2 separate regions of the Homo sapiens genome follow, and region 1 is linked to region 2. Evidence: fine-mapped expression QTL. A gene starts in region 2. The other region holds a variant in brackets. All regions are shown on one strand. Distances are from middle to middle. Region 1 overlaps CLEC4E (C-type lectin domain family 4 member E). Region 2 holds the start of CLEC4D (C-type lectin domain family 4 member D).

Region 1 (2,883 bases), 22 kb before region 2:
GACTATTGTTAATGAATGTACTAAAATGCATGCTGTTCTTACTATTTCGGTAAAGTCACTGCCTACCTTAATTTATTTTCCTTCCTAGAAGAACCTAAGAAAAAGGGAATTTCCATGTGGAGTTCCTTTAGTTAGGCAAGGGGAAAAAGAGGGTTGGAAGTGTTAATTTTAGACGAATCGTTATGTTTATGAACATATTATATGAAAGAAGAGAAGCAAATATTGTCCGTTTTCTTTAAGCTGTGATTAATAATATTTTGCGCTAGATATATTCAATAAATTTGGCCACCAATAATAGTAGATAAACTTTGAAAGAATTATTGAGGATCTCCTTTTCTGTTGAAGGTTATTTTTTCAGTTTAATTTTATGTTATGTATATTTTACCACAAAAAAAAATCAGTAGATAATCCTCATGATCTTACAGTTTCACTTATCTGTTATTTCTCATCCAGATTCTTTTTTACTTTTTGAGATGGAGTCTTGCTGTGTTGCCCAGGCTGGAGTGCAGTGGCGCAATCTCGGCTCACTGCAACCTCTGCCTCCCAGGTTCAAGCGATTCTCCTGCCTCAGCCTCCCAAGTAGCTGGGACTACAGGCACCCGCCACCATGCCTGGCAAATTTTTTTATACTTTTAGTAGAGACAGGGTTTCGCCATGTTGGTCAAGCTGGTCTTGAACTCCTGACCTCAGGTGATCCACCCGCCTCGGCCTCCCAAAGTGCTAGGATCTCATCCAGATTCTTACCTCTTTGAATAATAATTACTAGCAACGTTTATTCAAAACTAAAATAACTGATCTCCTTTTATTTTGTATCTTCCATAGGAATTCCTTTCCTACAAGAAACCTAAAATGAGAGAGTTTTTTATTGGACTGTCAGACCAGGTTGTCGAGGGTCAGTGGCAATGGGTGGACGGCACACCTTTGACAAAGTCTCTGAGGTAATTACCCTCCTATTGAGAGGAGTTCTTGAAACCTCCTTCTGTTACCTGCAATAGATCAGGTCCATTATTGGTGGTGGTATTAAATGCAGGAAAGAGAAGAGCTAAGGTAGAAAAGATGAAGGAGAAGTACAAGCACCCACTTCTCTCCTTTCCTGGAATTGTCTCAAGAATAAAGGGGAAATAATAAATGAAAATGAACTGAAGAATCATTCACTGAGAATGCAAAAGAGACGAGAGGTGGAATTAAGAGTCTTATTCCCCAAAACTGAAGGAAATGAGGAAAAAAATAGTAAGTTGAGAAAGACAGCAGGTTCTTATGCAGTGAAAAATGAGAATCTCTTGATAATGTCTCTTTTCTCCTTAATAATAGCCTCACGTCATTAGAACATAGCATTTTTTATTGTGGATATGCTTTTTTTGTTAGATTGGTTAATTGATATATAAAATATTTTGCTATATATGTTGATTCTCATGATTTGTTAGGGAGTGAGTTTTTTCTTTTTTCTTTTCTTCAACTTTTATTTTAAGTTCCAGGGTACATGTGCAGGATGTGCAGGTTACATAGGTAAACGTGTGCCGTGGTGGTTTGGTTTGCTGCAGAAATCATAACATGACCCGGGTATTAAGTCCAGCATCCATTAGGTATTCTTCCTGATAGAGCATAGCATTTTTAATTTTTTTTCTCATTTATTATTTCATTTTACCTAAATTACACTTTCTTGGAATGTATCAGTATTATTAATCTTTATTTAGCATTTGAGGAAACTAAAACTCAGCAGAGTTAA[G/A]TGACTTAGCTAATGAGCAGTTCTAAGAGTACAACAGAGATACTCTGACATGTTAGAAATGCTGCTTCACTACCACACTGTAACATCACTGCAGGATGCACCTAAGTTAATACACACTCTGTGCAGAATAAAGAGAGCTAAGCCGATATGAGGTATGAGTGTGAAGAAAACAAATCTATCAGAATATCAATCTTCCCCATAACTTCTCATTCTATAGCTAAGGAACAGGACAGAATAGAAAAGGAACAAAGGAACAGGACAGAATAGAAAGTCAGAAAGATCCGGTTCAGCTTCAGTACTCACAAACTGTGACTTCGACAACTAGTTTAGCTTCCTGAGGTTCCTTTTCTTCTTCAATAAAATGGACATTATAATACCTACCTCGCAAAATTGTTGTGAGGTTAAATAACACAAATGTAATTTGCCTAGTATATTAGGTTACTTTACCTCTTTTTGCTGGGATTTTAAGTCTCCTATGTCATTCTTTTTCAGCTTCTGGGATGTAGGGGAGCCCAACAACATAGCTACCCTGGAGGACTGTGCCACCATGAGAGACTCTTCAAACCCAAGGCAAAATTGGAATGATGTAACCTGTTTCCTCAATTATTTTCGGATTTGTGAAATGGTAGGAATAAATCCTTTGAACAAAGGAAAATCTCTTTAAGAACAGAAGGCACAACTCAAATGTGTAAAGAAGGAAGAGCAAGAACATGGCCACACCCACCGCCCCACACGAGAAATTTGTGCGCTGAACTTCAAAGGACTTCATAAGTATTTGTTACTCTGATATAAATAAAAATAAGTAGTTTTAAATGTTATAATTCATGTTACTGGCTGAAGTGCATTTTCTCTCTACGTTAGTCTCAGGTCCTCTTCCCAGAATTTACAAAGCAATTCACTACCTTTTGCTACATTTGCCTCATTTTTTAGTGTTCGTATGAAAGTACAGGGACACGGAGCCAAGACAGAGTCTAGCAAAGAAGGGGATTTTGGAAGGTGCCTTCCAAAAATCTCCTGAATCCGGGCTCTGTAGCAGGTCCTCTTCTTTCTAGCTTCTGACAAGTCTGTCTTCTCTTCTTGGTTTCATACCGTTCTTATCTCCTGCCCAAGCATATATCGTCTCTTTACTCCCCTGTATAATGAGTAAGAAGCTTCTT
Region 2 (2,926 bases):
GTATAACTTTTCACACATCAGATTTTTTAAGTAAATTAAGTACATGCAGTGTTGGCAAGGCTGAGGGGAAATAAGCACTCTTAGTGAGAAAATAAATGCTGCTGCCTGGACTGGAAAATTAGGAATGCCTTTTAGAAGGATCAATTTAGTGGCATTTATCCATTTTTAAATGCATTTCATTTGCCACAATAATTTCAATTACAGGTGTCTATTCTATAGAAATAATTGAGCTTGTTTATGTTAAAAGATATTCATTGCAGTACTTCTCAAAATAGAAAACACATACTGTAATCTAATATTTACATGTATATTATCAATAGTGGAAATTCTAAATTATGGTCCCTTCACACAATGATATTCTGTATAGTAATTAAATAAGCATGTAATCAGTATATATTGATGCAAAAAATCTCTAAGAAATATTGTTACCTAAAAAGGTAATTCAATAGGATCACACTGTGATTACAGTTTGCCATGGTAGGGTGATGAGATAAAGTAAAACTTTAATTTTAATTTAAACATTTCCACACTTGTTCTATATATCTATCAAAAATATTATTTAATATTATCACAATACAAATCCACTGGTGTCACTTAAGTCAAACATAAAATGGGACAGTTAGAGCCTCTGATACAGCATAAGCCTAAATGCTTTTTCTACATCTTCCTTTTCTCTTTTTTCTTTAAAAGAATCTTCTCATATTACTCTCTTTCTTTTCATCTTATTTCTCTTTTATATATTTTATCTCCCCTCTTGGTCCAATATACATTTTATAAAGAAGTTTCTGTTATCCAACTTATTTGACTCTATGTCCTTCCTCTTCACCAACGTCATTTTTATTTCCTTCCACCTCCTTCTCCCCGTCATCATCAACAATCTTTAAAACTACCATCAATTCATATGTTTTAAATTAGTATAATTCCATCTGCTTCTTTGAAATGGAAAGGAGAGAAAGTACTCACGTTTACTTTGAGGTTTTTCTAGCCCCATTGTCTAATTAGTCTCTTGTTCAATGGTCAGGACGGCAAGAATTTGTTCTATTTTTTTTCCCCCAGAGTATATTTCTGTGGATAGGGGAATATATTCAGAAATACTTGAGATCGAACACCAATGTTACATATTGTAGTGAGATTAGAAAGGTACCAGTATAAGAAAGTTAGCTCAAAAGAAGTCTTTTTCAAAGACAGGGGTTTCCTTTGATACATTCCGGGAGATGAGGCGAAAAAAAAAAAAAAAGGAAATTGAGAAAGCAATACCAAACAACAGTTAGTAGAAACCCACAAGTATGTTGAGATCACTAGATCAGTGTGAAATGTGGAATTTCTCAATTTGTTTTTTTTTTCATTTAGACAAAAAATTTAGCAACGCCCTAAAAGAAATAATTGTTATGCCCAATAAAAATTTAGTAAATGTCCCCTCTTTTTAAATTCTTTTTGTGAATATTATATTTTCAAAGGCAGTTATATTCTTGGGGTGAGTTCTATACTAAAAAGTTCTCTGGACTGAATAAAAAGTTGAGTCTAAGAGAGCAAAAGACAATGTGAACAATGAACAAAAACTTTTAAAGTATACCTTGTGTGTACATGGCATGTGAAGACACAGCAACCTTTGTTTTCGAGTTGAGGAAGAGATGATAGAGCAGTTAATTAAATCCCAAGAACTTTCTAGGTGAGCAAAAAGAGTTGTGTTAAGGCAAAGACAAAGAAAATGTAAGATTCTGTGATAAAGACACCATCAGGGTCCCTGACTTCATTTATAGCACTGTTAGGGAGTGAATGTCTGTATCTCCTCAAAATTCATTGGTGGAAGCACTACCCTCCAACGTAATGGCATTTGGAGGTCAAAAGTTTGGGAGGTAATTAGGTTTAATATGAGGTCATGAGAATGGGGTCCTCATGATGGAATTATAAGAAGAGACCCGGCTAACGAGCTGTTTACTTCCTGCGGGTGCTCAGGCTGTGGCCATCTTCCTTGCTGTTGCTCTTCTCATTGGAGAAGATGGCCCTGGAGACGGTGCTGAAGGACCTGTGGCATCTGTGGGCCTGTTTGCTGTGTTCACTGGTCAAGGTACTATAGACCAGTTTGAATATGATGGTTGTGACTATTGAGATGCATATCTACAGATGAAGGGTAACTGAGAGATGCTATATGGCTGCACCAGCTCCTCCTTTGATGGAATCATTGCGATGATGAGTCCAGAGGACAGCTGGGTCTCCAACTGGCAGCGAGTCAATAACTTTAAGCCAGGTGTATATGCGGTGTCAACCACTGGTCGCTTGCCCTAAGGAATCGTGCGGGAGCTGAAAAGTTGAGGAGTGGCCTACAAATCCAAAGACACAGCTATAAAGACCAGACGCAGGGCTGCCAGCGTCTTTGCTCTCCACCTCCTGCCTCTGCTTATTTTTTGTTCTGGAACTAAATGGGCAGAGCTTCAAATGCTTCCTACCCTCCAATTCAGACTCAGCCAACTGTTGAGAGAACAGCACATCATTTTATCATTTTACCTTATTTGGACTTCAGGTGGGGGTGGGAGGGATTTGGGTTGGTGGATTAACAGATGGAATTGAGGAGAGAGTAGGATGCTGACTTTCCTACCTGTAGCCCAAGGCTGCGCCTTGCTCATGAAGAGGTCTAGGTCAAATGTCAATAAATAGAAACCTCTAGAAAGTTCTTAAGGCCATGACACCTGCCTCGCTTCCCTCTTCCTTTCTCTTAGGCACACAGTAAGAGCTTATTTGCCCTATAAGATACCTTCCCAGAGCAGCAGAGGCCCTTCCACTCCCTCTTGACTGTCTCAGCCTCCAGGATTGCAGCCTTTGTAGTGTGCTTCCTTGCTTCCTATCAGAAGGTGCTGTCCAGAGGCTCAGTAACCCCATCAGCTTGGTGGCCCTGGTGTCTTGTGCTTGTATCCTTCTGCCCTTGAGA

What was found. PIP is the estimated chance that this variant, and not a neighbour inherited with it, causes the effect. A credible set is the group of variants that fine-mapping cannot tell apart.
Region 1: its variant is the best candidate, but not a certain one, in a credible set for the expression of CLEC4D in thyroid (GTEx, PIP 0.58).

Annotation. Positions count from the first base shown.
Region 1 is chr12:8,534,145-8,537,027 of GRCh38, reverse strand. It overlaps CLEC4E (C-type lectin domain family 4 member E), which reads left to right. Exons shown (of 6, transcript NM_014358.4): 5 at 823-938; 6 at 2,219-2,883. The coding sequence ends at 2,390. Among named protein-coding and RNA genes, the nearest start is that of CLEC4E, 5.3 kb to the left of the region's middle. The variant G/A (reference allele first, on the strand shown) is at 1,727.
Region 2 is chr12:8,511,798-8,514,723 of GRCh38, reverse strand. CLEC4D (C-type lectin domain family 4 member D) reads right to left here and starts at 1,221. Exons shown (of 6, transcript NM_080387.5): 1 at 964-1,221. The coding sequence starts at 991. It also overlaps the pseudogene SUPT4H1P2.